Homo sapiens: one gene and its partners. The protein of the gene in region 7 purifies or fractionates together with the protein of the main gene of each other region. This does not show direct contact. Each region holds a gene or a part of one and is shown on either strand. Other genes may lie near its edges. The genes, in order: PDGFRA, DDX24, NHSL3, FYTTD1, UBR7, KIF1C and THOC5.

Evidence for each region.
Region 1: the proteins of THOC5 (region 7) and PDGFRA purify together in Homo sapiens (affinity purification with mass spectrometry; one large-scale study listed by BioGRID and IntAct). This does not show direct contact.
Region 2: the proteins of THOC5 (region 7) and DDX24 purify together in Homo sapiens (affinity purification with mass spectrometry, with the first as the bait; one large-scale study listed by BioGRID). This does not show direct contact.
Region 3: the proteins of THOC5 (region 7) and NHSL3 purify together in Homo sapiens (affinity purification with mass spectrometry; one large-scale study listed by BioGRID and IntAct). This does not show direct contact.
Region 4: the proteins of THOC5 (region 7) and FYTTD1 purify together in Homo sapiens (affinity purification with mass spectrometry; one large-scale study listed by BioGRID and IntAct). This does not show direct contact.
Region 5: the proteins of THOC5 (region 7) and UBR7 fractionate together in Homo sapiens (co-fractionation; one large-scale study listed by BioGRID). This does not show direct contact.
Region 6: the proteins of THOC5 (region 7) and KIF1C purify together in Homo sapiens (affinity purification with mass spectrometry; one large-scale study listed by BioGRID and IntAct). This does not show direct contact.

What each region holds. Positions count from the first base shown.
Region 1 is NC_000004.12:54,270,318-54,274,752, forward strand, and holds part of PDGFRA (platelet-derived growth factor receptor alpha isoform 1 precursor), read left to right. Parts: intron 1-315; coding exon 316-431; intron 432-2,076; coding exon 2,077-2,203; intron 2,204-3,219; coding exon 3,220-3,413; intron 3,414-4,213; coding exon 4,214-4,308; intron 4,309-4,435. UniProt on the Homo sapiens protein: Tyrosine-protein kinase that acts as a cell-surface receptor for PDGFA, PDGFB and PDGFC and plays an essential role in the regulation of embryonic development, cell proliferation, survival and chemotaxis.
Region 2 is NC_000014.9:94,074,703-94,078,202, reverse strand, and holds part of DDX24 (ATP-dependent RNA helicase DDX24), read left to right. Parts: intron 1-3,500. UniProt on the Homo sapiens protein: ATP-dependent RNA helicase that plays a role in various aspects of RNA metabolism including pre-mRNA splicing and is thereby involved in different biological processes such as cell cycle regulation or innate immunity.
Region 3 is NC_000001.11:32,744,447-32,748,881, forward strand, and holds part of NHSL3 (NHS-like protein 3), read left to right. Parts: intron 1-4,435. UniProt on the Homo sapiens protein: Able to directly activate the TNF-NFkappaB signaling pathway.
Region 4 is NC_000003.12:197,773,505-197,777,939, forward strand, and holds part of FYTTD1 (UAP56-interacting factor), read left to right. Parts: intron 1-644; coding exon 645-706; intron 707-3,422; coding exon 3,423-3,497; intron 3,498-4,435. UniProt on the Homo sapiens protein: Required for mRNA export from the nucleus to the cytoplasm. Acts as an adapter that uses the DDX39B/UAP56-NFX1 pathway to ensure efficient mRNA export and delivering to the nuclear pore.
Region 5 is NC_000014.9:93,212,821-93,217,255, reverse strand, and holds part of UBR7 (putative E3 ubiquitin-protein ligase UBR7), read right to left. Parts: intron 2,328-4,435; coding exon 2,274-2,327; intron 2,081-2,273; coding exon 1,975-2,080; intron 1-1,974. UniProt on the Homo sapiens protein: E3 ubiquitin-protein ligase which is a component of the N-end rule pathway. Recognizes and binds to proteins bearing specific N-terminal residues that are destabilizing according to the N-end rule, leading to their ubiquitination and subsequent degradation.
Region 6 is NC_000017.11:5,010,989-5,015,423, forward strand, and holds part of KIF1C (kinesin-like protein KIF1C), read left to right. Parts: intron 1-2,664; coding exon 2,665-2,744; intron 2,745-3,754; coding exon 3,755-3,849; intron 3,850-4,435. UniProt on the Homo sapiens protein: Motor required for the retrograde transport of Golgi vesicles to the endoplasmic reticulum. Has a microtubule plus end-directed motility.
Region 7 is NC_000022.11:29,519,258-29,522,757, reverse strand, and holds part of THOC5 (THO complex subunit 5), read left to right. Parts: intron 1-1,658; coding exon 1,659-1,760; intron 1,761-2,653; coding exon 2,654-2,750; intron 2,751-3,500. UniProt on the Homo sapiens protein: Component of the THO subcomplex of the TREX complex which is thought to couple mRNA transcription, processing and nuclear export, and which specifically associates with spliced mRNA and not with unspliced pre-mRNA.

The DNA of each region.
Region 1 (4,435 bases), on a different chromosome or scaffold from region 7:
ATTTTTTTAAAGAAAAGTTGGTAGGCTGTGTTTATTCATTCAGAAGTCAGGCCGTGGCTGAACTGATAGCTCTTGGAGATGGCCATTGCTCATCTCTGAATGTCTGGTTTTCTCTTGTAAGAATTGTGTGTATGATCCAGACCTTCAGTGTGTGCACTATATATTGAGAATTCCAGAAGAGATGATATGGACAAGAAAAAAAGATGACTTTACTTTTTACAGTAAAAATAAAACTTAAATTGAAGAGTACAATTGTTTAAACAATTGGAACTTACTTAGCTACTGCTTGTTGAAACAAAATCCTTTTTTTAAAAGGTATCGAAGCAAATTAAAGCTGATCCGTGCTAAGGAAGAAGACAGTGGCCATTATACTATTGTAGCTCAAAATGAAGATGCTGTGAAGAGCTATACTTTTGAACTGTTAACTCAAGGTATGTAAAGGGAGTATAAAGATAATGCTAGCTCTGTAGATGAGTGTCTTCCAAGGAAAGCCTGGCACTTTTCTCCCCGGTCATGGAAGAAAAGCAGCACTTAGGGGAGAAGCAGTGTCTGCATATGTCACATATCGGGAATACCTCTGCTGGACTCATGAATTCAGGTATTTCTGGGAGGTTCTGGGTTACTCTAGAGTAGGCGAGGAATCCCTAGGCTCCACCAGCTAGCTTTATTTTTGTAGAGATGGAGTCTTGCCATGTTGCTCAGGCTGGTCTCCTGGGTTCAAGCTATCTTCCCACCTTGGCCTCTCAAAGTACTGGGATTACAGGTGTGAGCCACTGCACCTGGCCTCCACCAGCTTACTTAGCACCTGCTTCTCAATCTGAGAAGAGAGAAGCAGATGACCTTAGATTGTTCTGGAGAGTTTTGCTACAAGTTTTCCTTATAGACATTGTACAGTGGTCCTTACCAGAAGGGAGTGCCCAAGTCTGTTTACATTCAGGCTCAGCACCTATCCAGAGTCCCAGCCATGAGCCAGGTGCTGTCTGAGGTGCGCTCATGTGATCCTCACAGTAAAACCTGTGATACAAGCAACACCGTATATCTAATTTATTTGACCACAGATTTAGAAAAGAATCTTTAAAACCTAATAACATACCACAGATGCATTTTGGTAAATGCTGCTTTAGATTATACTTTAGCTGAATCCATTAGTTGAATCCTAAGCTATAATATAATTTTAAGAACCTCCTTGCCTTTCAAGCCAAATAACCAAGGGACTTTCTCTCTCTCTTTCCCTCCCTCCCTTCCTTCCTTCCTTCCTTCTTCTCTCCCTCCCTTGTTATCTCTTTTCCTTTCCTTTCTCTCCTTCCTTCCCTCTTCCCTTTTTCCTTTCTCTCCTTCCTTCCTTCCTTGCTTCCTTCTTCCCTCCCTCCTTTGTTCTCTCTTTTCCTTTCCTTTCTCTTTTTCTTTCCTTCCTTCCTTCCTCACTCACTCTTTTCTTTTCCTTTCTCTCCTTCCTTCCTTCCTTCCTCCCTCCCTCACTCTCTCTTTTCTTTGCCTTTCTCTCCTTCCTTCCTTCCTTTTCCTCCCTCCCTCCCTCCCTTGTTCTCCCTTTTCCTTCCTTCCTTCTTTCCTTTCTTCCTTCCTTCCCTCTTCCCTCACTCTCTCTTTTCCTTTCTCTCCTTCCTTCCTTCCTTCATTCTCCCCTCCCCTCCCCCCTCCCCTCCCCCTCCCCTCCCCCCTCCCCCCCTCCCCTCCCCTTCCCTTCCCTTCCCATTTTTCTTCTCACCATGTTGCCCAGGCTTGCCTCAAACTCCTGGGCTCAAGTGTTTCTCTTCCACCTCAGCCTCCCAAGTAGCTGGGGCTACATGTGTGAGGCATCACAACCATGGACTTTTCACTTTCTTCACTCCAGGTTAAAAACATCACAGGGATAAATCTCAAAACACCAAAACTGTGAAAATGCTGCTAACCATGTGGGTCTGTCTAAACTGGAGTGTTACTTGTACAACTGGTTTCAGCCCCTCCGGAGTGTTTTGAATGCCATGTAGATGAGTTGTGAACTCATATTCCACTTTGTAGTCTCATATGTTCTGGGACACGAGCTATTCCATTCTGACTTCTTTCTGCCTCTTGCAGTTCCTTCATCCATTCTGGACTTGGTCGATGATCACCATGGCTCAACTGGGGGACAGACGGTGAGGTGCACAGCTGAAGGCACGCCGCTTCCTGATATTGAGTGGATGATATGCAAAGATATTAAGAAGTATGGAAAACAGATGTGTCTTCTTCTTTCGTGGTCAGAATATTTCTCCCTTGACACAAATGATGTCAAATACATTTTACTTATTGACTATAAGATAGGGTTTTGGGTGTGATAGCTTCAGGGTGTGTATCTTTTGTCATGAATAGCTGTGAGAAGAAGGTCCAGGGCTCTCATTAGACCTTCAAAATGTCTCCAATCTAAAAACAAGAGTGAATTTTAAGAACCACTGTTCTAAGAAGATTTTTACTACCCTGGCTCACATATCTTATTTGGTGAACTTTGTTTGGTAGTCGGACTGCATGTAAACATAAATGTGACTGCTTAGTCCCTTATCTGCCCACCTGCTGTTTGGTGGGTTAATTCGCCATTCCCTCCTCCCTCCCCCGAGTCCTCAGCCTTCTTAAATGGGCACATGAGCAATGTGTTTACACTTCATCCATGGTAACTGGTTGTGTTCAGAAGCCTCAGTTGTTTCTTCCTCTAGACAGAGACTCCTCATCTTAACTTCTAGGGCTAAGAACAGACTTGGATGTTGACTGGGGTTTCTAGTAGATTCCAGTGTGGAGCAGGATTCTAGGTCTTATAACTCAATCTGAGGATCATCGCAACCCTAGTGACACCCTAGGGGCTCTTCCCAGTGTGAGTGTTGAGAAGGGAGGGCTCCAGGCCTTTTTGAAGGGGTGGGAGATTGAGATCATTAAATATGGTTGAAGTTGAACTGTTCAGTTTGCTCATAGGTTCAAGATTGGGGAATGGTAGTCATATTTTATTAAACTTGATTATCTCTGCCTGCTATGTAAACACTTAGCTTTCAGTTGTTCATGTGTGAGTTATTCCCTCTTCAGCACATGCAGACAAGTTTTAATGTTCATCTGCATGTAAAATAAATCAGTGTGTATTGCCCCGAAATGCAGACAAGGTCCCAACTCCTTGCCATCTTAGAGTGTTCCCGTGGCTCCACTCATTGCCATGACTCTCAGGAATTGGCCCTATACTTAGGCCCTTTTTCTCTCTAGATGTAATAATGAAACTTCCTGGACTATTTTGGCCAACAATGTCTCAAACATCATCACGGAGATCCACTCCCGAGACAGGAGTACCGTGGAGGGCCGTGTGACTTTCGCCAAAGTGGAGGAGACCATCGCCGTGCGATGCCTGGCTAAGAATCTCCTTGGAGCTGAGAACCGAGAGCTGAAGCTGGTGGCTCCCAGTGAGTTCCTCAACAGTCAGGACAACTCATCAGCTGAGCCGCATCTGCCCCAGGCGGAACTTTGAATCCCAGATAGGGGTTATATAGAAATGAAGGTCCCAAGGCAGAAATTCAGTTATGAATGCTCTTAAAGTCATGTGGGACTTTGTTTTATTTTGTTTTGTTTTTTGAGACAGAGTTTTGCTCTGTGGCCCAGGCTGGAGTGCAATGGCACAATATTGGCTCACTGCAACCTCTACCTAGGACGTTGTTTTAGATTCAGATCCAAAACTGCATTTTTGCAGAGGCCCCTCAACATTTTGCTTGTCTAATAATATAGCTACAGTCTCTACTTTGAATGTCTGTGTATGTGGATGGAGTGTGGGGAAGGATCTTCTGTCTCATTGCTCCTTAAAAGATAGATGAAGCCAAAAGCAATATAAGCAAAATGCAACTTACAAAATAAGCTTTATAATAAAGCATATGAAGTAGAGGTGTCTGCCCATATAGTAGCTGTCAATTGCATTTATCCTATTCAAATTCTGTCCACAAGGTTACTGTTGGAGCAACTTTGGAGAAAATACTGAGTTCTCCTGATTGAATTTTGTCCCCTTCTTGTATAAGGAAAGAGTTGATGTAGTTTCCTGGGTGTAGATGGTTTGAGAGATGGTACTGCCTATCCCTAAAATGAACCAGGCAGCCCTCACACTTCCCCACCAGCAGTGAGAGATTCCTGGCTCAGACACAGCCACACTACCTTGCTGCCCCTGTGCATGTCTGCCAGGAAACTTTTCATTGTGCCTCTCTCTCTTGTCACGTAGCCCTGCGTTCTGAACTCACGGTGGCTGCTGCAGTCCTGGTGCTGTTGGTGATTGTGATCATCTCACTTATTGTCCTGGTTGTCATTTGGAAACAGGTAGATATTTTCTCATAAAACTAAAGATCTTTGAAGCCAATGAGAACAAGCATAGCAACCTAGTTCAGTGCTTGGCACAGAGAAGGAGCTCAGCAATTACATGTGGAGTGAACGTTGTTGGACTCTA
Region 2 (3,500 bases), on a different chromosome or scaffold from region 7:
CTTACATATAACCTATATAGGCACATCCTCCTGTATATTTTAAATCATCTCTCGATTACTTATAATATCTCATACAACATAGGTCTTATGTAAATTGTTACACCGTATTGTTTAGGGAATAATGACAAGAAAAGTCTGTACAGTGTTTAGTACAGATACAGTTTTTTTTTTTTTACCCCCCCGAATATTGTCGATCCACAGATGCAGAACCCACGGTTACAGAAGGGTGACTGTATAATGTGAAACACATAAGTAATTTAAAATTTACTAGGAGTCACATTTTTTAAAAGTTAAAAACTAGTGAGATATTTTATGTTCTTTTTTTTTTTTTTACTAAATTTTCAAAATCTGGTGTGTTTTAAACTTGCAGCACATGTCATTTTAGAGTAACTACATTTTAAGTGTTCAGTAGACACGTGCTTTGGGTTTCTGGAACAGTGGTCAGGAAACTCAGGATGATGTTCTGTGGCAGTCATATAGATGGAAGAGTGAGGAACTACAGGAAAGGGGAATGGAGATAATAACTTAGAACATTTACTGAGCATTTAAGATGTGTCATGCACTGTGTTAAGTGCTTTATGTTGATGAAATCGGTTGTCACAACCACCCTGGGGTAAGTACCATTATTCCCATGTTACAGATGAGAAAACTCAGCCTCACAGAGCATAGACAGCTTCCCTAAAATTACACAACTGAAATGGTAGTGTATGGATTCCAGGCTAGTTCTGTGTGTTGTTAAGCATTCTGCTACACTGCTTTGGTATGTGCAGCAGAGTCCTGGAAGTAAGTCCGTGGAAGGCAGAAACAAGGTTTATATGAGCCGTTGTGGCCAGAGATTGACATTTGGATGTATACCACAGTTCCTGTCAGGTTGTGAATCTACAAGTCCAGAATTCAAAACGACTTGGATAAGTCATCCATCTGGGGCTGTGAACAGACCACTGCCCATGCAATAATAAATAGACCCTTAATGTGGGGATTAGGGGCATTGGTCCCCTGTGCAGTCGAAAATCCATGTATAATTTTGAACTCCCCCCAAACTTAAACGCTAATAGCCTATTATTGGCTGGATGCCTTACAGATAACATAAGCAGTCTATTAGCACATATTTTGTATTATATACTTTATTCTTACAGTAACATAAGCTAGAGAAAAAATGTTATTAAGAAAATTGTAAGGAACAGAAAATATATTTACTATTCATTAAATGGAAGTGGATCATCATAAATGTGTTCATCTTCATCTTGACTTTCAGTAGGCTGAGTAGAAAGAGGAGGGGTTGGTCTTGCTGTCTCAGGGTGGCTGAGGTGGAAGAAATTCTGTGTATAAGTGGACCCCTACCTTCAAATTTGTGTTAAAGGGTCAACTGTATATCCATTACCCCCAAAAAGATACCCTGGGTTTTTTTTGTTGTCCCTCCCTCCCTCCCTCAGTTCTTGTTCCTCCTCAGGCAACCACTGATAGGCTTTCTATCACTATAGATTAATTTGCATTTTCTTGCTTTCTTTTTTTTTTTTTTTTTGAGACGGAGTCTCGCTCTGTCACCCAGGCTGGAGTGCAGTGGCCCAATCTCGGCTCACTGCAACCTCCGCCTCCTGGGTTCAAGTGATTCTCCTGCCTCAGCTTCCCGAATAGCTGGGATTACAGGCACTTGCCACCACATCTGGCTAATTTTTGTATTTTTAGCAGAGACGGGGTTTCACTATGTTGGTCAGGCTGGTCGCAAACTCCTGCCCTCATGACCTGCCTGCTTCGGCCTCCCAAAGTGCTGGGATTACAGGTGTGAGCCACTGTCCCCGGCCTAATTTGCGTTTTCTAGAATTTTATATAATGAAATCATATAATATGTACTGGAGGGGGTGGTATCTGAGTCTTTGACTCAGCATAATTTGAGATTACGCCATGTTATTACAATTACTAGCAGTTCATTCCTTTTTAGTGATGAATAGTATTCCAATGTGTGGGTAGAGCAGTTTGTTCATCTATTGATGGACATTTGTGCTTTTTCTTGTTTTTGGCTATTACAAATATAGTTATTGTAAATACTATTGTACCAGTCTTTGTATGGATATGTGCTTTAATTTCTATTGGATAAATACCTAGGTGTGGAATGGCTAGGTCTTGTGGTAAATGTAACTTTTAAAGAGTTTTCCAAAGTGATTATACCATTTTACGTTGTCACTAGGTGGTATGAGTTCAAGTTGGTCCATATTCTTGTCAATAACTAGGTATGCTCAGTCTTTAATTTTATTTTAGACTTTTAAAATTTTACTATTATTTCCTTGTCATTTGAATTTGCATTTCCCTAGTGACTAGCAATGTAGAGCATTTTAGCATATGCTTATTTGTCTGTTTGATTATTTTGCCCATTTTTAAAATAGGGATGTTCTGTTGTAGAGTTTTGGGAGTTCATTGTGTATTCTAGATACATGTCCTTTATCAGATGTGAGATTTGCAAATTTTTCTCCCAGTTTGTGGCTTATCTTTTCGTTCTCTTAACAGTGTTTTTCAAAGAGCAGAAAGTCTTTATTTTGATGAAATCCAAATTAGCCTTGTCTTTTATGAATTTATGCTTTTGGTGCCGTTGGTGTTTTATCTAAGAACCTTTTGCCTAATTCAAGATCACAAAGATTTCTCCTGTGTTTTGTTCTAGAAGTGTTAATAGTCTTAGGTTTTATGTTTTGGTCTCTGATCCTTATTGAGTTAACTTTTATTTAGAGTGAGAAGTATGGATCAAAGTTTGTGGGTTTTTCTGCATATGGCTAATTATTTCAGCACCATTTGTAGAAAAACTATTCTTTCTCCACTGAGTTGACTTTGCATCTTTGTTGAAAGTCTGTGACCATATAGGTGTGGGTCTTTCTCTGGAGTCTTTTTGTTTTCCATTGATCTGTTTGTCTAGTCTTTATGTCAGTTTCTTATTCTCTTGGTTATAATAGCTTTATAATAAGTCTTAAAATCAGGTAGTATGAGTCCTCTAACTTTGTTCTTTTTAAAAGTTATTTTGACTGTTGTAGGCCTTTGCCCTTCCATATGGATTTTAGAATCCGTTATATCAGTTTCTACAAAAAAAGTAAGCTGATATCTGGATTGGGATTCTGTTGATTACAGAGCAAATTGAGGATAGATGACGTCTTAACAATATTTAATTTTCCAGTCTATGAATATGGTATCTCTCCATTTCTTTAGATCTTTAACTTTTCTTAGCAATGTTTTAAAATTTTCAGTATATAGATTTTTCACATCTTATGTTAGATTTATCCTTAAGCATTTTATATTTTTGATTCTATTGTAAATGGTAATTTAAAATTTTTTATTTCCGATTGTTTGTCGCCAATAAGTAGAAATATGATGGATTTTTGTATATTGATCTTGTGTCCTGCAACTTAGTTCCACCAAGTAGTTTTCTGAGGATTCCATGGTATTTTCTGCAAAGATGATCATTATCCAGTCTTGGATGCCTTTTGTTTTTCTTGTTGTATTGCAGTGGCTAACACCTT
Region 3 (4,435 bases), on a different chromosome or scaffold from region 7:
TGACTGATTTGACCAAACGGATTTAAACTCAAATCACCTGCCTCAAAAATCGGGACTGTTTTCATGACTCTCCCAAGGACATAGAGCAGCAGGTAAGGCTTGAAGATCTTCTTGTTCAACTCACTTTACAGATGGGAAATGGCCCAGAGAGAGAAGTGAGGGAACTTGATAGAGTGGGGAGAGTATCAGAATCAGGCCAATGAGAGTTTAAATCCTGGCCCAGCTACTAGCAAGCCCCATGATGTAGGATGAGCAACTTCTCAGTGGGCTCCCTGATTCCACCACTGTCTTGTGGGGAAGAAAGGGGGAATCCTCTGGCTGGACATTGCCTTGATGGGCTGTGACCTTTCTGTCTCACCAAGATTCTCACAAGAGAGCATATGAAAATTATATTAAAGGCTGGGCGTGGTGGCTCATGCCTGTAATCCTAGTATTTTGGGAGACCGAGGCGGGCAGATTGCCTGAGCTCAGGAGTTCGAGACCAGCCTGGGCAACACGGTGAAACCCCGTCTCTACTAAAATACAAAAAATTTGCCAGACAAGGTGGCGTGCACCTGTAGTCCCAGCTACCCGGAAGGCTGAGGCAAGAGAATTGCTTGAACTCGGGAGGCGGAGGTTGCAGTTAGCCAAGATTGCACCGCTGCACTCCAGCCTGGGCAACAGAGCGAGACTCAGAAAAAAAAAAAAGAAAAAAAAAAGAAAATTATATTAAAGAGAAGTAACCATAGAAATGCAAGGGGTTGCTATGCCTGTGTTTATAAGTTTAGTCACCTGAGCTCTAACGACCCAGTCTGGAAGGAATGGGCTCTGGGCCTAAGAACAACTTTGCTTGACTGGGCGTGGTGGCTCACACCTGTAATCCCAGCACTTTGGGAGTTTGAGGTGGGTGGGTCATGAGGTCGCGAGTTTAAGACCAGCCTGACCAACATGGTGAAACCCTGTCTCTACTAAAAATACAAAAATTAGCTGGGCGTGGTGGCGCGTGCCTGTAATCCCAGCTACTCAGGAGGCTGAGGCAGGAGAATCGCTTGAACCCGGGAGGTGGAGGTTGCAGTGAGGCGAGATTGCACCACTGTACTCCAGCCTGGGCGACAGAGCGAGACTAGGTCTCAAAAAAAAAAAAAAAAAAAAATGGACAACTCTGCTTCCCTGGTCTGCCCCTCTCAAGCTACAAGATGCTGGCAGGTTATTCACCCCTCCAAGCCTCAGTATCCTTATCTGTAAAATAGGGATAATAAATCCTAGCTTTATAGGGGCCTTTCCAGGATCAAATGAGCTAACAGACATGCAAGTGCGTTGTGAACTGTGGAGCATGGTGCAGCTGGCAGCAGGTTTCTGCTGTTGTTATGCTGCTGAGGACTTGAGCATTAGTTAAGTTCACCCTGATCCATGTTTGGAAAACAGCCCATGATGATGATGATTATTGAGGGGGATTCACAGAGGATAGAGTCTCACCTTTGTCCCACAGGAGGACTCAGACATAAGAAAAAGTTAAAAAAACAGGCCAGGCACGGTGGCTCACGCCTGTAATCCCAGCACTTTGGGAGGCTGAGGCGGGCGGATCACAAGGTCAGGAGATTGAGACCATCCTGGCTAACATGGTGAAACCCTGTCTCTACTAAAAAATACAAAAAATTAGCCAGGTGTGGTGTCGGGCGCCTGTAGTCCCAGCTACTTGGGAGGCTGAGGCAGGAGAATGGAGTGAACCCGGGAGGCGGAGCTTGCAATGAGCCGAGATCGCGTCACTGCACTCTAGCCTGGGCGACAGAGCGAGACTCCAGCTCAAAAAAAAAAAAAAAAACAAAAAAGAACAAGTTAAAAAAAACAAAAACAAACAGGAATCCATATCTTCCAGAAATATCACCTGGACTCTAGACAAGTGTGTGGGTAGGAAGTGTTTCTGGGACAGATGCCAGGATTGGAGCCCAGCAGATAATCAGGGGAGGCTTTCTGGAGGAGGCGAGCGCCTATGGAAGGAGGGCAGGGTCCTGGCTAATCTGAATGGGAAGAGAAGTAACAGGAAGGCTGCTATGTGCTATATATACCCTGGCCAGGCATTTTCATCAAAGTCTTCCTATGTCCTTACAGCAACCTGGGAGGTGGACAGTTACCACCATTTGTAGGTGAGAAAAAAGGGGTGAGAGTAAGTAGCCCGAGGTCACTCAGCTTCATTTATTTGAAGAGGACATATTCTTTACTCTGGAGTGTAAGGCACTGTTCAAGGTGATGTGAATGCCAGAGGACCAGACAGGCAAGGTCCCCATCTATGTGGAAGTGAGGTTCACAGCATCACAATGACGGAGCCACTCAGTCTGCCTCCAGAGGCCACACTCTACAAAGAAAATTATATGATGATGGCTGTGTTTCTGACTCTGGAGGCAGGTAACCTCTCTAGAGTTTTAGACAAAACCAGTTTTGGGGAAAGGGGTATGTAGTCCTCCTGAGGGTTTCTCTTGTGCAGTGGGCAGCGGCTGAGGGGTGGGAGTAGGCATGGCTCTGATACTGAGAATTTGAGAGCTACCCTGCCAGGCCTAGCTGACTTAGCCCCATGTTAACTCCAGTCAGTTCACTGTGGCCTCTCCAAGTTCCCTCTGGCCACTCAGGGAGGACTGTCCTTTCATGGTGTGGAGTTGTGGAGAGAACCCTGAGTTTGAGTTCTGCTCTGTTGTATGACCTTGGGTAAGTCCTGCCCCTCTTTGGACCAGACATGCCCTGTCTTGACAAAGATGGTTTTTTTTTTGTTTTGTTTTGTTTTTTGAGACAGAGTCTCACTCTGTCGCCCAGGCTGGCGTGCAGTGGCGAGATCTCAGGTCACTGCAACCTCTGCCTCCCAGGTTCAAGCGATTCTTCTGCTTCAGCCTGGGACTACAGGTGAGTGCCACCGTGCCTGGCTAATTTTTGTATTTTTAGTAGAGATGGGGTTTCACCATATTGGCCAGGCTGGTCTCGAACTCCTGACCTCATGATCCGCCCGCCTTGGCATCCCAAAGTGCTGGGATTACAGGCGTGAGCTACCGCGACTGGCCGACAAAGATGGGGTTTAATGGCCTCTGAGACTCTTGCTAGTTCTAGGATTCTGTGAGTTTGAGAATGGGCTGAGGGAGCAAGCCTGTAGGGGCTGGGGGCTAGGCATGGAGATGGGAGCTGTGTCCAGGAAAGGAGAGCTGACCTCCAGCCAGCCAGATAAGACACTGAGACCCAGTGGCCTGGATGTCATAGGAAGGGGAGTAAGGTGGCTGGGCGTGGTGGCTCACACCTGTAATCCCAGCACTTTGGGAGGCTGAGACAGGTGGATCACTTGAGGTCAGGAGTTCAAAACCAGCCTGGCCAACATGGTGAAACCCCGTCTCTACTAAAAATACAAAAATCAAAAATTATGGCCGGACACAGTGGCTCACGCCTGTAATCCCAGTGCTTTCGGGGGCCAAGGCGGGAGGGGATCACCTGAGGTCAGGAGTTTGAGACTAGCCTGGCCAACATGGCGAAACCCCATCTCTACTAAAAATGCAAAAATTAGCTGGGCATGGTGGCATGCATCTGTAATCCCAGGCTACTCGGGAGGCTGAGGCAGGAGAATAGCTTGAACCCAGGAGGCAGAGGTTGCAGTGAGCTGTGATCACGCCATTGCACTTCAGCCTGGGCAACAAGAACAAAAAGCTCCGTCTCAAAACAAAAAACAAAAATTAGCCAGGCGTAGTGGCAGGCGCCTGTAGTCCCAGGTACTTGGGAGGCTGAGGCAGGAGAATCACTTGAACCCAGGAGGCGGAGGCTGCAGTGAACTGAGACCACGCCACTGTACTCCAGCCTGGGCGACGGGAGTTCAACTGGGCAACAGTTTCATTCAAAACTCAAAAAAAAAGGAAGGTGGGTAAGGAGAGTCCATTATGAACAATGTCATTTCTCTCTGCTGAGGAAGGGGCCTAGATAGTTCCAAAGCAGTCAGAGTCAAGTCTCTGGGGTCGTGGGCGCCTTGCCCTTCTGAGGTCAGGATGGTGTCTGTTTGCCCGTCAGTCAACACTCCCATGTGTTTTCCCCTTCTGTGTCAGTTCCTGTGCTGCTTCTCCTGCCTGGAATGTGCTCCCCTTCACTTTGCTATCCAGTGAACTCCTATTCAGCCCTCAGGGCCTGGTGTCAGTGTCATCTCTGTGATACTCCCAGGGGAAATTATTGTCCCCAGACCCTAGAGCAAGGTGCTTAAGAGAGTTGGGGTTGGGCAGTATATGCTTTTCCAGCCACTTTCTTCTTGGGTAAAGGGCACCTCAGTGTCCTTACCTGGGGCCTGGACCAATGTAATAGGGGCGGAGTTCCCTCTGCTATGGGATACCTCCAATAGGGGAGTGGTTTCCCAGAGGAGTTTGGGGTTTCTCAATAAGAATGTGACATTTTGGCTTCCCAGAAATGTAAAAAATAAAGAGTGTGACAGGGTGGCTGCTCT
Region 4 (4,435 bases), on a different chromosome or scaffold from region 7:
TAAAAACTTTGGCAGTGTTTTTGTTTGTTTGTTTGTTTTTTCCCAAAGAGGATCCTGAGCAGCCACCTTTAGTAAGCCTCAGTCATAGGCAGCATTGGGTTCAGGATGTGAGGCACGTGGTAGTAGATTAGTTCTTCCTGTTGTATGTTTTTTATTTCCCATCTTTTCTTACCCTCAATAGCAATGTCTTATAAGAATTTAACTCGTTATTTGGGAATAAACCTGTATTTGCCACTCGTTCTCATGTAGGAATTCCAACAGGGAACTGTTGCCAGAATAGCGTGGGCCCCTCTGCTGCACTCACGCACACACCCCACTGGGTTAGGAAGTTCTAGAATAGCACGGGCCCCTCCGCTGCACTCACGCACACGCCCCACTGGGTTAGGAAGTTCTAGAATAGCGCGGGCCCCTCCGCAGCACTCACGCACACGCCCCACTGGGTTAGGAATTTCTAGAATAGCGCGGGCCCCTCCGCTGCACTCACGCACACGCCCCACTGGGTTAGGAAGTTGTAGAATAGCGCAGGCACCTCCGCTGCACTCATGTACACGCACCACTGGGTTAGGAAGTTCCAGAGCAGGATCGCTCTTTGGATTCAAATCCTCTGCTTTCTGTGGTACCTACTGCTTTTTTTTTCCCTTCAGGTGCAGGCCCAGTTGAATACAGAACAACTGCTAGACGATGTAGTAGCAAAGAGAACTCGTCAGTAAGTTTCCATTTGTTTTTTAAGATGTTATTTCAAAACTCCCAGAATACTAACTACCCAAATTATCATGTACCTCAGTCCAGAAGAAATTAATTGAAACCCAAAATAAAATTCAGTCTGAAAGCTGGGCATAGTGGTGCTACACACCTGTAATCCCAGCTAGTTGGGAGACTGAAGCAAGAGAATTGATGGAGCCCAAGAGTTCAAGGCTGTGAAGTGCCATAATGTCACCTGTGTATCGCCACTGCACACCAGCCTGAGCAGCATAGCTCGATGCCACTGCACACCAGCCTGAGCAGCATAACTTGATTGCCACTGCACACCAGCCTGAGCAGCATAGCTCGATGACCAGTGCACACCATCCTGAGCAGCATAGCTCGATGACCAGTGCACACCAGCCTGAGCAGCATAGCTCGATGACCAGTGCACACCATCCTGAGCAGCATAGCTCGATCGCCAGTGCATACCATCCTGAGCAGCATAGCTCGATCGCCAGTGCACACCAGCCTGAGCAGCATAGCTCGATCGCCAGTGCACACCAGCCTGAGCAGCATAGCTCGATGGCCAGTGCACACCATCCTGAGCAGCATAGCTCGATCGCCAGTGCATACCATCCTGAGCAGCATAGCTCGATGGCCAGTGCACACCAGCCTGAGCAGCATAGCTCGGGCTATGGAGACTGTCTCCAAAAAAATTTTTAAACATTGAGGCTAAAATAAATAAATCTTGTTTTGTCCTTTGTTAATTTTCCCCAAAAACCTTTTGAGTTTTCATGTGTCGATATTGTAACAGTTTTAGTGCCACGTAGATTACTTCATTTTTATTATTTTTATTTTTTATTGGCTATACCATTTTAATGAAACAGCTTTTTCTTTTTCTTTTTTTTGCTATAACTGCTTTCATACAAATGAACCTATTTAGGGAATGAATAGAATAAAATTCAGTGGAGCTTTTAGAACATTTGTACAACTTTAAAAACAATAGTTTTCCTTTTCACAGTCTTTTTTTCTTAGCCCTATAAAAAATCTTTTGAAAACCTATTTTATCCTGTTATAATCACACCTCCTAAGTGTGAGTTGTAACATACTAATTCCATCAGTGTGATTAGGTTTTGAGATTAAACTATTTAAAATTATGACTACTTTTTGGAAAATAAAATATATACACTTGGCCCTCTGTGTCTCAAGGGAATTGTTGCCAGGCCCATTGAAGAGATTAAAATCCTCAGATACTCAAGTCCCTTTCAGTCGGCCCTCCATATCCGCGGATTGTCTCTGTGTCTCAGGGGAATTGGTTCCAGGCCCACTGAAGAGATTAAAATCCTCAGATACTCAAGTCCCTTACAATCGGCCCTCCATATCCGTGGATTGTTTTCATTCTGCGGTTGCAACTGATTGAATACATGGACGTAGAACCTGTGGATACAGAGAGCTGGCTGTAAAACATGGTCAGGGCCCAGATATGGTGCCAACTGTGGTGCATGATTTTTAGCAATTGGAGTGTTAGGAAACTGTGAAACTGATACAGGTGGTATTCTTTAGCACAGGGGTCATGACATTAGAAACCATGGGGAAAGAAATAATAATTGTAGCCTTTTTGCTTCTGCAGTGAACAATATTTACATAATTGTGATCATATAAATGTTATTTGTTTTGAACTTTGAGAATCAACCTGTTAGACAAAGCACAAAATAGTTAATTTGAGAACAATATAATGTAAATGTCCGATTTTGACTAATGTGAATATAAAGGAAGAGCTGACAGAAAGTGAGAGGTACAAACAAAGGAGCAGAGGTGGAGGGAAGGAATAGAGGCACTATTATCCTTTCACATAAAGCTGGGGGTGGGTTCAAGAGATTCTGCTGAAAGAAACAGAGATTTAAGTATTTTCAGTTACAAAGGCCTGGAAATAGTGATACAGCCATCAAAATGTTTCATGGTGGGTAAGGAAACTGGAGGATAGTTTGACGAACTAAATCTTTATTCATCATAGCAATTTTTTTTTTTTTTTTTTGAGATGGAGTCTCGCTCTGTTGCCCAGGCTGGAGCGCAGTGGCACAATCTCAGTTCACTGCAACCTCCCCCTCCCGGGTTCAAGCAGTTCTCTGCCTCAGCCTCCTGAGTAGCTGGGATTACAAATACCCACCACCACACCCCACGCCCAGCTTAAATTTGTTTTTTTTTTTTTTTTTTTTGGTAGAGATGGGGTTTCACTATCTTAGCCAGGCTGGTCTTGAACTCCTGACCTCATGATCCACCTGCCTCTGCCTCCCAAAGTGCTGGGATTACAGGTGTGAGCCAGTGCCCGGCTGCAGCAAGGTTTTTTTTTTACTATGTAAGCATCTTGTTTAGTGAATTGGAAGTAACCAGAAAGCAGTAAAAACAGGTTAAAAGTGCTGCCTCTGGAGAGTAGGAATAGAAAGCAGGAGAATAGTGGGGTGAGGGACTGTTGCTTTTTATTAGAAGTTCTTTTGTACTATTTGATTTTTTTAAATTTGTATACATTTATTACACTGAAAAATATTTAATAAATTAATTCAGATGCCCAGTTCCGCACCCAAGATGTTGATTTATTATATCATGGTGGGGTTCAGGTACTTATTTCTTACAAGCTAAGAAAAAGTAATGGCTACTTTTAATGTTCATTTTTATTTTGAATATACATAGGGTTTATCAACTTACATTTAATGAATTTTTTTTATTTTTTTTGAAACTAGATGGCGGACTTCCACCACAAATGGAGGGATTTTGACTGTATCTATTGACAATCCTGGAGCAGTGCAATGCCCAGTGTAAGTTGTTTCTTTCTTTTTGCAAAAATTATAACCTCTCATTACATGAGATCATAAGAAAGTATTGGACTTCTGCTCAGAGAATGATGTCCAAGTTGGGATGAACCAGGAAGACAGTAATACCTGTGATACAATATGGAAACAGTATATGGTGTAAAGTAAAGTAAGAGCTTTCTTGATTCCTGATTCTGCAGCCCTAAATGACCACGTTGGAACAGTGTTTTTTATGTTTTAAAAATTATGTGCATGTATACTCTGTGTACCCTTTTTTTGGAGGCAAGGTCTGGCTCTGTTACCCAGGCTGGAGTGCAGTGCCATGATCATGGCTTATTGCAGTCTTGACCTCCCAAGCTCAAGCGATCCTCCTGCCTCAGCCTCCCGAGTCCTGAGGAGCTGCAGCGACAGTTGCCCACCACCATGTCTGGCTTTTTTGTTTGTTTGTGCCCAGACTGGTCTTGAACTCCTAGACTTAAGCAGTCCTCTTGCCTTGGCCTCCCAAAATGCTAAGGTTACAGGTGTGAGCCACTGCACCTGACCCAATATATATATTTTTGTGTACAATAATAAACGAGATGATGGTATACATGCTACTTCTCCTAATCCCTGTAATGTTTTCGATGTCTTTATTTTTCAGACCATACAGACCTACGTTCTCTTTAAATTTATTGCTTTATAAACTTTGTCAATTTATGGAGCTTATGTTCTATTCAACCATCTCTTGATTTTTTTAAGAGATAACGTCTCACTCTGATGCCCAGGCTAGAGTGCAGTGGTGCCACCATAGCTCACTGCTGCCTCGAACTCCTGGGCTCCAATAATTCTCCTGCCTCAGCCTCCTGAGTAGCTGGGAACATAGGCATGCACCACCACACCCAGCTAATTTTTTTTTTGTACAGATGGGGGTCTTGCTGTGTTCCTTAGGCTGGTCTCTAACCCCT
Region 5 (4,435 bases), on a different chromosome or scaffold from region 7:
CAGGAGTTCGAGACCAGCCTGGCCAACATGGTGAAACCCCTTCTCTACTAAAAATAGAAGAATTAGCTAGGCATGCTGGTGCATGCCTGTAATCCCAGCTACTTGGGAGGCTGAGGCAGGAGAATTGCCTGAACCCAGGAGGCATAGGTTACAGTGAGCAGAGATTGTGCCACTGCACTCCAGCCTGGGCAACAGAGCAAGATTCCGTCTTGAAAAAACAAAAAAACCCAATGAATGAGAACTACACATAGATAGGTTCAGCATCTGTGGACAGTGAGAGAGATCACTGGAAAGGGTGTGAACAGAAAGGGAGCAGCACTTAAGAACTCTGAGGCAAACTGGCCGGGCGTGGTGGCTCATGCCTGTAATCCCAGCACTTTGGGAGACCGAGGCGGGTGGATCACTTGACATCAGGAGTTTGAGACCAGCCTGGCCAACATGGTAAAAGCCTTGTCTCTACTAAAAATACAAAAATTTGCCAGGTGTGGTGGCATGTGCCTGTAGTCCCAGCTACTCTGGAAGCCGCGTCACAAGAATCGCTTGAACCCAGGAGGCAAGGTTGAGGTGAGCCGAGATAGCACCACTGTACTCCAGCCTGGATAACACAGTGAGACTCTGTCTCAAAAAAAAAAAAAAGGCAGAAAAACAAAAGAACTCTAAGGCAAATCTAAACTGTAGGATGAGATCAGAGGTATGGCTATGCTGCTCATGGTTTGTATGGTGAACTGGTCTCTAAAGATGAGAAAGGCAAGAAATTATGAAGCCTAAGCAGCAGATACCATGAGTAACTGCCACCTTAAAAATAAAGAAATACATAAAGCATTACCAATAAGATAGTTAATGCCTCAGGACCATTCATTAATTAGTTGTTTTGATTTAATTTCTTAGTGTATAATAAAAGCACCAGATAGACTGGGCATGGTGGCTCATGCCTGTAATCCCAGCAGTCTGGGAAGCCAAGATGAGTGGATCACTTGAGCTCAGGAGTTCAAGACCAGCCTGGGCAACATGGTGAAACACTGTCTCTACAGAAAATACAAAATTAGCAGGGCATGGTAGTGTGTGCCTGTAGTCCACTTTTATAAAGGCACTAATCCCATTCACGAGGGCTCTGACTTATAAAAGAGGCCCAAGCGAGCTTGTTTGCCCCTTTTAACAGGTACGGACACGTAGAAGGATCTGTCTATGAGGAATGGGCCCTCAACCAAACACTGACTCTGCGGGCACCTGAATTTTGGACTTCCCAGTCTCCAGAACTGTGAGAAATATCTGTCTATTGTTTATAAATTACCCAGCCTAAGGTATTTTGTTTTAGCACCCCAGACAGACTAAGACACCACCTCCTCCCCAACTGATACCATGTGTTAGAATTAACAACTTATTTCAGTTCTATTTATCTTTCAAAATCCCATTCAAAAACTGCCTCCTCCATTCTCTAACTCTGGTCTCATCAATACTCTGCATCATATCATTTAAGTATAAATTTGTTTTTGGTAGTATCCCAACAAATCTATGCACCTTGTGGAGAAAGAACACATACTATTCTTTTTTTTTTTTTTTTTTTTTGAGGATGGAGTCTTGTTCTATTGCCCAGGCTGGACTGCAGTGACGTGATCTCGGCTCACTGCAACCTCTGCCTCCTGGGTTCAAGTGATTCTCCTGCCTCAGCCTCTGGAGTAGCTGGGATTACAGGCAAGCGCCGTGACGCCAGGCTAATTTTCATATTTTTAGTAGAGATGGGGTTTCGCCATGTTGGCCAGGCTGGTCTCGAACTCCTGACCTCAGGTGATCCATCTGTCTTGTTGGCCTCCCAAAGTGCTGGGATTACAGGCGTGAGCCACCATGCCTGGCCAGAACATATACTATTTTATAACCACAGAGCCCAGTTAAAAATAGTTGCTAAAAATTCTGAATTGAACATACAAATTTCACAAGCACAAGTTTGTGGCACACCAACTTCACAAAGATACCTACCTGCCAATTGTGCAGCATAAGCCCACAAAAAAGAACAACGTTTCATGCAGGCCTGGCATACCATCTCCTGAAAATCCCCACTCTCAGGGGGAATGGCACCAAGATGCTGTGAATATAGAACACCAAAAATTTTCTTGTGATTGCCAAATTGTCCAAAATGCCCATTATTTTATAAATACTGTAATAATACACTGATCATATCATTAGAATTTATTTTTAGAAGACTAATTATAATGTAAAATATAACCTTTATCTTTTTGTGACAACAATGGTTTCAAAAGGTGGAACATTTTCCTTACCCTTCCATGGAACCAGTCTTCACAGACTACGCACTGGATCATCTCATCTGGAATCTAACAGAGAAAAGCAGTTTGTTAAGGATTACATTGAATTCGGGAACATGGAAATAACCTGGCACACAGTAAAATAAGATACTAAATATTTGTTCTACATGAACTGGTGTTCCAAAGGCTTACATTGAGATAAGCACTTTACAAACAATCTCAAGGCTCTTTCACATCCATTACTTAATATCTGATTCTCACAAAACTGTGTAGACAAGGAGGGCATTCCCATTTTATACAAAACTCAGGCCCAGGCAAGTAATGTGAATGGACCAGTGCAGACAGTGACAACTGGGACTTTTTACCACACCATCCTTTAATACAATATTCAGTTGTATTACTGTATAAGGATGTTCACTCCAGCCTTCTTTATAATATTGAAAAATTAGACAATGCCTTTCTGCTGCAGAAGAACCATCCTGCCAAGTACACTGAAAAGTAAATGTTATGAAAAACCTCGATAGATAACTCCTCTAATTTGAATAAATTAAATAATTAAATGCTGGCCCTAGGAAAATAATATACCAAAGGACATAGACTATTTTGGGGATGATTTTCTTTTACTCCCAGGCTCTCATAACTGTTAATTAACATCCCAATGTTGTTCTGTCCTTTTCCTATCGTAGGCTTCTTAAAGGGAATAAAAAAGCACATATTGTGGAACAGGAGGAGCTGTAACACTTTACCACATGCCTTAAAATATCCAGTTTTGGCTGGGCGTGGTGGCTCACGCCTATAATCCCAGCACTTTGGAAGGCCAAGGTGGGTGGATCGCCTGAGGTCAGAAGTTTAAGACTAGCCTGGCCAACATGCTGAAATCCTGTCTCTACTAAAAATACACAAATTAGCCGGGCATGGTGGCGAGTGCCTGTAATCCCAGCTACTCAGGAGGCTGAGGCAGAAGAATCGCTTGGACCTGGGAGGCAGAGGTTGCAGTGAGCTGAGATCGCACTACTGTACTCCAGCCTGGGTGACAGAGCGAAACTCCGTCTTAAAAAAAAGAAAAAAAAAATCCAGTTTTAAGGTTTTATTTTTGTTAACTCAAAGAGACTTTCAATCTGTCCCTCTATATAATTTGGTTCAATAATTATAGTTCCAACGCAATTAGAAAGCAAGGAAGAAGGCAGAAGACTAATATCTCTAAAGACAAAAAGTACTCTTTCAAATCGGTAAATACCCAGACAAAACCCAAACCAATCAAAACATGGACTGAGGATATGAAAGGACAATTCAGAGAGAAGGTTATTATGGATGTCCAATGAACTTATGAAAAGATGCATAACCTCACTTATCATCAGGGAAAGAAAAAAAAATTTAAGATACTATTCTTTGGCTGGGCGCGGTGGCTCACGCCTGTAATCCCAGCACTTTGGGAGCCCGAGGCAGGCGGATCATGAGGTCAGGAGATTGAGACCATCCTGGCTAACACGGTGAAACCCTGACTCTACTAAAATTACAAAAAATTAGCTGGGCGTGGTGGCGGGCACCTGTAGTCCCAGCTACTCAGGAGGCTGAGGCAGGAGAATGGCATGAACCCGGGAGGTGGAACTTGCAGTGAGCCGAGATCGCGCCACTGCATTCCAGCCTGGGTGACAGAGCGAGACTCCGTCTGAAAAAAAAAATGAAAAAAAAGATACTATTCTTCATTTATCAGAATGGCAAAATTTTCAAGAACTGGTAATATGCAAGGTTGACAAAAGTGTTGGGGAAAAAACACTATCATATACTGTTGCTGGTACAACTTTTTTGGCAGATATGATCACAATTTTATTTTATTATTTATTATGATTATTATTTTTTGAGACAGGGTCTCGCTCTGTCACCCAGGCTGGAGTGCAGTGCCGCAATCCCAGCTTACTGCAACCTCTGCCCCATGGGTTCAAGTGATTCTTGTGTCTCAGCCTCCCGCGTAGCCAGGACTACAGGCATAAGCCACAGTGCCCAGCCAATCACAATTTTAAATGCCACAAATACACTTTGATCCGTCAATTATACCGATCCATTCTACATAAATACTTGGAGTATACTCAGTTGTATTACTGTATGAGGATGTTCACTCTAGCTTTCTTTATAATATTGAAAAATTACACAATGCCATTCTGCTGTAGAAGAACAAT
Region 6 (4,435 bases), on a different chromosome or scaffold from region 7:
ATACCAATTTATACTCCCAAGGGTAACATACAAGAGAGCCCATTTCCCCTCGCCCTTTCCCACATTCTGGCTTAGTAAGACTTTTCTCTTTGCCTGTGTGATTGGTGAGAAGGTGTCTTAAGGTAGTTCACTTTTACATTTTTCTCAAGGTGGTGAGGATGAACTCTTCTCATGTTTAAAAGCCATGTGGTCTAAAGCCAGAAGAGAGAACTGTTAGACTCATGGGGAAATGGGTTTGGTGTGAGTAGCTCCAACAGGGAATAGTTGGGTCTTAGAGGAAAAAACTACAGTTTGTCTTGGAGGGAGCCTCCTCTTGCTAAGACCCCCACCACCAGGGCTAAGGATTGCTTAAATCAGTGGTGTTCAAACCTGGTTCTGAGCTGCCTTCTCAGGGGCTGAGGATAGGGACAGGACCAGACCCTGGGGCTCTCACCCCCAGCCTGGGCCTGAGCAGCTTCTTGCTTATCTGCTTGATGTCCTAGGCTTCTAGAGAAGGTTTCATTTTGAACAAAGAGTTATAGGGCTGAAGAAAAAGTTGAAAAGCACCGCCTCAAATCGTGTTCCCTCTCCCCAGGGATAGATTGCTTTCTGCTTCCGGAGCCCATCAGCGTTTGCCAGTCCCAGAGCAGGCCTGACACTGCAGTGTAGGGAGGGGCATGGGAGTCCCTCAGGAGAAGTGTCGCAGGAGTGATCCTTGGAGCACTTGGGTGAAGGGCGGATGCACAAGATACACAGACACCTCTGGGGGACACAGCTTTGGGCTCTGAGTGTTAAGTGGCTCCCAGAGAAATAGAGGTTCGACTCCGTGCTGTTTCCCTTCTGTACCCTGTGCTTTCTGCCTCCATGCTTCTGTCCAGGCTGCTTTCACCCGGAGCGCTCTTGTGCATGTCCACGCCCTCCTTGTCCTCAAAGGCTGGCTCCCATGTTACCCTTCCATTAAGTCCTCCTGATCCCCTTGAAATCCCATAGTTCTTCACTTTGTTCCTCTTTGCATGTGAGTCCCTCCCAGAACACAGTGGCACTCAACCCCCTGGGAACAAATGAATGAATAAACGAACTTAAACAAGGGCATGAGACAATCAGAAACTCCTCCATGAGGCATCCGTTTCCCACTTGTAATGGTGTTTCCACGCCAAGCCTCACCTCCCCTAGCTGACTCTCATTTCCTGACTGACTGGACAGCAGTGCCTGGGCTTGACTCATCTCTGTACCCCGCCTAGCGCTTCACCAGGGTGAGGTAGAAAGGCCACAGTCAGTCCTTCTGCAGCAGAGGCAGGGGTCTTGTGTTCTGATGGAAGGCTTAGGAAAACTTCCCGGAGGAAGTTGCATTTCAGACAGACTGGGAGGAACGTGAAGGAAGTGAATGATTTTGGCAGGTGGGGGCGGGGCGGGAGGCGGTCTGTTGTTGGGGACATTGGCAGTCAGGGATGCAGGAGGCCTACTTTGGAGGGAGTGCTCAGGGGTCCGCTGAGTGGAAGTACAGAGTCTGGGAGAGAGCCTGGGAGGGGGGCTTGGACAGATGGACTGGAGCCGGGACATGGAGGAGGCCCAGGGATGCCAGGGGAAAAAGTAGGCTCAAGTCCAGCGGGCCTGGGGTTCCAGCTGGAGAGGTCTCAGCAGAGAGGCAAAGACATGGCCATAGCGAGGTGTGGGCAGGAAGCTGGGAGACCTAAGGGGTGGCAGGAAGGCAGGTGGGCCTGGTGCAGGGTGGTGCCGAGGGATGGAGAGGTGTGTGGCACGGCAGCAGCTGGCAGGAAGGGAGACTTCCCCAGGCGTGGCAGCAGTGGCATGAATGGGGGTACAGAGGCAGCGTCGCCTGTACGCCATCCAGAGTACTGCCCAGCAAGGGCAGGGCTGTTATAATGGAAACAAGTCAGGAGAAGGTGCTGTGGGAGAAGGGAATGGGCCGGGTTTTCAGCACAGAGCAGCGTAACAATCACTCAGGTGTTCAGGATGGACTTGGCTGGGGGCCTTAGGCAGGGACAGCCCCAGGCGGGTGCTGCAGGGACCCAGGCTTGAGGTGAAGCAGCCCAGGGAGGGGTAGTCACTGGGGAAGAGTCAATGAGTCTGCTTCGAGAAACATGTTTGTTCCATTTGCTTTTAAGTTGAAGTGACACTTTTTATTTTTAAATTGTGAAAGTAATTCATGTGTGTAGGAAATTCAAGGTTGATGAAAGGTGGGGAGTACCAGTCTGCTCACTCAGTCTCCCCCAACTCTCCAGAAGCTGCAAGGTACATTTTGAGGAAAGAAATGATGGGACCTGAGACAGAGGAATATAGGGAAGAAGAGAATGCAGGGGGTCCGGGGCTTCTGGTGAGGGAGCCTGGTGGGTCGAGGTGCTTCTGAAGAGACAGGCCTTGGGAAGGGTTGCTGACCTGGATGCAGCTGGATGGGTGGGGCAATTTTTGTCGGCCCCTTGTGTGAGGAGAGGGTGGATCAGGCTGTCCTGAAGGCGGTTGGTGTGAGAGGTGGGAACCAAAGAACGTCATCGGGGTGGAGGGATGACGATGGGAGGAGTACAGAGGGCAGGAGAGCTCTCCAGAGTGAGGGGGCGCAGCTGGCAGTGCCAGGACTGGAGGGGTGTCTCCTCCCACCGCTCCCTTTCTTCCTTTCTATAGCACCCCTGGCTGGCTCCCCCTGACCACCTTTCTCTCCCCGCTTAGACTCCCCACCTGGTGAACCTGAACGAAGACCCTCTGATGTCTGAGTGTCTGCTCTACCACATCAAAGATGGCGTCACCAGGTAGCGTGTACCCAGCGGCCTGGGGGGCAGCCTCTGCTTTTGGGGTGTGGCTGCCAAGGGTTGTCCACATTGGTGTCTCCCTTCCCTGGTGGTCCCTGGAGATACCTCAGATCTCTAAACAGCTGCCTCCACAGCCCTGCACGCTCTCCCAGCTTCAAGAGAAGCGTGCCTGCTCAGTGGCTGTCTTGCCTCCACCTGCCAGTTTGGTTAGGGCGAGACAACCTTGTTTACTGGGGCAGGAGAGTTGGGAAACATAGACCCCCTCATTCTTAGACCCTGATGCCATTGCCTTGGCCTCCCTTGGTGGGGCCTTCCCTGGGGGCGGGAGAAGGGAAACACGGCCTGGTCTGTGCGGTTGAGGGCTGGGCAGCTAAGGGCATGTGGCTCCTTGGGCTGGTATTATGAAGTCATGGGGGCTCGGTGCCTCCCCTAAAGGGGTGAGGGTGCCCTTCCCCTCCCACCACAGGCATTCGTGGCTGTCCTTGGTAGTCATCTTGGGTAGGGAGTGAGCTCTCAGGATCATCAACCTAAGGATGGGTGGAGGCCTGTGGCTGAGGGTGCCCGTTTCTCCCAGGTTTGCTTGTACCCAGGTAGCATGTACCCAGTGGCCCGGGGGGCAGCCTCTGCTTTTGGGGTATGGCTGCTGAGGGTTAGCCACATTGGTGCCTCCCTTCCCTGGTGGTCCCTGGAGATAACTCAGATCTCTAAACAGCTGCCTCCACAGCCCTGCATGCTCTCCCAGCTTCAAGAGAAGTTGGCGAGCCTGCTGTATAACATGGTGACTAAGAGCATGGCTTCAGAGTCAGGCAGACCTGGGCTCAGATCCCAGCATCACTTCACTGCCCACTGAATGAACCCGGGCAAGCCATTTCACCTCCCTGAGCCTCTGCTTCCTCATCTGTGAAATGGGAATAATTGGCTTGGTTCATTGAGTTGGATAAACTGGTGTTCAGGAGGGGCTTGGTTAAAGTCTGGCACATGCTCACAAACGTTGGCCATTGCTTCCCCAGGGTCGGCCAAGTAGATATGGACATCAAGCTGACCGGACAGTTCATTCGGGAGCAACACTGTCTGTTCCGGAGCATCCCCCAGCCAGATGGAGAAGGTAATGGCTGAGGGGGTGAGAGAGGCCAGACAGGGAGAGAGGCCCCATGTTCCACCCCACACACTGAACTCAGAGGTCTGGGTTGGGCACCAGGGAGTGCAGCCATATAAAGAGGGGATGTGGCCTTGTCCTCAGAGGGGCTTGGGGCTCATGGGTATGAATGGAGGAATACCACAGGCCCAGCCCTCTGCACCCACCCTGAGAAGACAGACTACTGTGTGGTCAGGCACTGGCGAGGGTTCTAAGGTAGAAATGGGACACTAGTGAGCCAGAGTGTGGGATTTTGCTGAAGAGAAGATCCTGCCCTTCTTGATCTTGTTCACCACAACTAGCACTCTGATCCTTTTTAAACAAAAACCTGTATTTGAATATCGGAACTTGTCCCTGTGGAAAACCTGCCTCTATCCAGCTATGACTGCCGAGATTTCTTTTTCTTTTTCTTTTTCTTTTTCTTTTTTTTTTGAGACGGAGTGTTCGCTCTTGTCGCCCAGGCTGGAGTGCAATGGCGCGATCTGGGCTCACTGCAGCCTCAACCTCCCGGGTTCAAGCAATTCTCCTGCCTCAGCCTCCCGAGTAGCCGGGATTA
Region 7 (3,500 bases):
GTGCTGGGATTACAGGCGTGAGCCACCACGCCCGGCCACTAAGGTTTTTTTAATCCCTTACTTTTTATCAAAATTTTATAACAAAGATTTGACTGGTTGAGAAGTTTTTTTGTTTTGGTGTTATATTTTTATGACTATAAATAGCCTTTCCTTTTATGTTCATCATTTTTACCAAGTTCAGTTGTCTTAGCCATATGTTGCAGATATAAATTTTGCCAAGAAGGTGATTCCTTCATCAGGTTTTGTCAATTAATAACCTTCATCGTGGGCAGTTTTAGTTCTGTTTTATTTATTTACTAATAGATTGAATCAATCTATTAGTAATAGTCCCTAAACACTTGCTAAAAGACTGAAAAGTTTTATTTTATTTTATTTTATTTTATTTTATTTATTTTTTTGAGACAGAGTCTCGCTCTGTCACCCAGGCTAGAGTGCAGTGGTGCAATCTTGGCTTATTGCCAGCTCCGTCTCCCGGGTTCACACCATTCTCCTGCCTCAGCCTCCCAAGTAGCTGGGACTATAGGCGCCCGCCACCATGCCCAGCTAATTTTTTTTTTTTTTTTGTATTTTTAGCAGAGACGGGGTTTCACCGTGTTAGCCAGGATGGTCTCGATCTCCTGACCTCATGATCCGCCCGTCTCGGCCTCTCAAAGTGCTGGGATTACAGGCGTGAGCCACTGTGCCTGGCCTGAAATGTTTTATTTGTTTGGTAGTCAGTTCTCCATTTGAGGTGGTGAAGGGGGCAAAGACCTTGGGGAACAGGGATACTCAGTGAGACACAGTAGGGAAGAGCTGGAAGCCTCCACTGTCCTAGCATGGAGTTCCTGAAGGCATGCTGGGGCCAAAACGCAGGACCGGCACGTGCTGCCCAAGTTGCTCCTGACGTTATCCATGGAAAGATGAAGGAGAACCCCCTTTGGTTCAGGGAAAGAATGGGCCTTGTCATCCTTTGTGATAAAATTACTACATTACCCTCCCACATTATCTCTTTTTTGCTTGTCACATTTAATGACAAACTGTGCCCGAACCATCCCAGGTGGGTGGCAGTGGCGTCACTATTTCTCTCCGCTTGTAGCTGTGGGTCTCCAGTGTATGTGATTGTATCTTTTTCTGGGAACATACAGGGGGCCTTTTCCTGTGATGAGCATAAGATTTGGTCAAAGTGAGATAGACATAGCACCAAAGCTATACACTTGTTCTCTCTGTAGCAGAAAGGAGTCTGTTCTGCTTTTATGAAAATTGAAATTATTTCTACTGATGGTGTCATGGGACTTTGCTCCCCTGAGGTAAGGCCTTAGGCACCATATAAATCTTGAAGGGATGAGTTTTTTAAAAATTAATGATTAAGAGTACTAGTCTGTTTGATCAGACAATATAAAGCCACCTCTAGCACTTACTAGCAGTGTGATCTTGAATAAGCCATATCTTTTAAAGCCTTGAGTTTTTCCTCTATAAAATGGAAATGATAATCCTCCCTCATAGGGTTGTAAGGATGCAATGACCTCAAGCATATAAACGGTCTGGCCCACAGAAAGCCTTCAATAAATGGTGGCATTGGTCATCAGTGAGACGTGGCATTACCATCCCCAAATGCCCAAGCCTATGTTGAAGAAAGATGTTGGCTGCATTCTCACTGCTTACTGTTTTTCCTTTTCTAGTGACTTGCTGTCTCCTGACTCAGTCCTGAGTTGCTTGTATCCTGGGGATCATGGAAAGAAAACTCCGAATCCAGCCAATCAGTATCAGTTTGATAAAGTTGGGTGAGTCAGCAGTTTCCTCCTCTCCGAGCTCTCTACTTCTGAGTTTCTCTGGTGGCTCAAGCTAAATGCTGGAGACCTGTTAGGGCCAGAGGTGACCCAGAGGATAGGAAAGACCACAGGGTAGAAGGAAATGTTTGTTCTTTCTTGCTTACAAGGCAAAGGGAGATCACAAAAAGGGTGGAAGGATCAAAACTCGGAAACATGCTGGGTGTGGTGGCTCACGCCTGTAATCCCAGCACTTTGGAAGGCCAAAGCAGGTGGATTCCTTGAGCTCAGGAGTTCGATACCAGCCTGGGCAACATGGCAAAACCCTGTCTCTACAAGAAATACAAAAATTAGCCAGGCATGGTGGTGGGCATTTGTAGTCCCAGCTACTGGGGAGGTTGAGGTGGGAGAATTGCATGAGCCCAGGAGGTTGAGGCTGCAGTGAGCCATGGTCATGTCGCTGTACTCCAGCCTGGGGGCAACAGAGCCAGACCCTGTCTCAAAACAAAAACAAAAAGAAAAACAAAAAAAACCCTCTGGAAGCATAATAATACGTGATACAATAAAAATGTTTGACATTTTAATTATCCGAGGATTAATTTTTAAAAGATTTTCTAAATTGGTAGACCAATAAAGACATTAGTACACTGCCTTTGTATTTGATATTTGCTTATAAGTTGAAGGCTGCAAGAAGAAAAGGAAAAAGAGGAAAGTGAATGTGAGAGAGATGAAATTCACAGTAGGGAACTGACAAAGTTGAAGGGCTTTGCCAGCAGCCTGGCTGTGAACATGGCCAAACCTGCAGGACTGGATGGTTTGTGGGGCATGGGAGGGTGGGAGGAGGCTGTATCCTGGGACCACAGCAGAAATGACTTACAGCACAATTTTATTTATCTTCTTTTCTGCAGCATCCTGACTTTGAGCGACTATGTACTTGAGCTAGGTCACCCCTATTTGTGGGTGCAGAAGCTGGGTGGCCTCCACTTCCCCAAAGAGCAGCCCCAGGTCTGTACACTGATCTCATCTAGTTGGCTGAGGAGCTTACCTCTTCTCTTCCTGTATAGACTCTAGAAAGGCCAGGCCAGGTGCGGTGGCTCATGCCTATAATCCTTGTACTTTGGGAGGCTGAGGCAGGTGGATCACCTGAGGTCAGGAGTTTGAGACCAGCCTGGCCAACATGATGAAACCCCATCTCTACTAAAAATACAAAAAATTAGCTGGGTGTGGTGGCACGTTCCTATAATCCCAGCTATTCAGGAGGCTGAGGCAGGAGAATCACTTGAACCAGGGAGGCAGAGGTTGCGGTGAGCTGAGATCATGCCACTGCACTCCAGCCTGGGCAACAAGAGCAAAACTCCGTCTCAAAAAAAAAAAAAAAGGCCTGTCATGGCCTTTGGAGTTTTGAACTGGCAGAATGTGTCCCCTCAGGGCTGTGACCTGTCTTCTATCCACTCAGGACACTAAAATGTCTTAGACTTACAAGAGTTTACGTACCTTTTGCATTTTCTCTGAGCCTAGTAGCCTTTTAGACCCAGGCAACTTGAGTCCTTGCTCTGGGACTCATGTCTGCAGGCTCTGCTGCCCTTGTTCTTGTGTGCAAGTACCAAATATGAGGCATGAGCAGAAATCCAGGGGGCCTGGCCCCTTAGCAGAAGCCTGCCTTTCCTCAGGAGTTGGACACAGCTTCTCAAGAACGCAGCATATTGTGTTGTTTCTGCCAGGACTCAGCGTCTGGCCTGTCATAGCAGATAAACC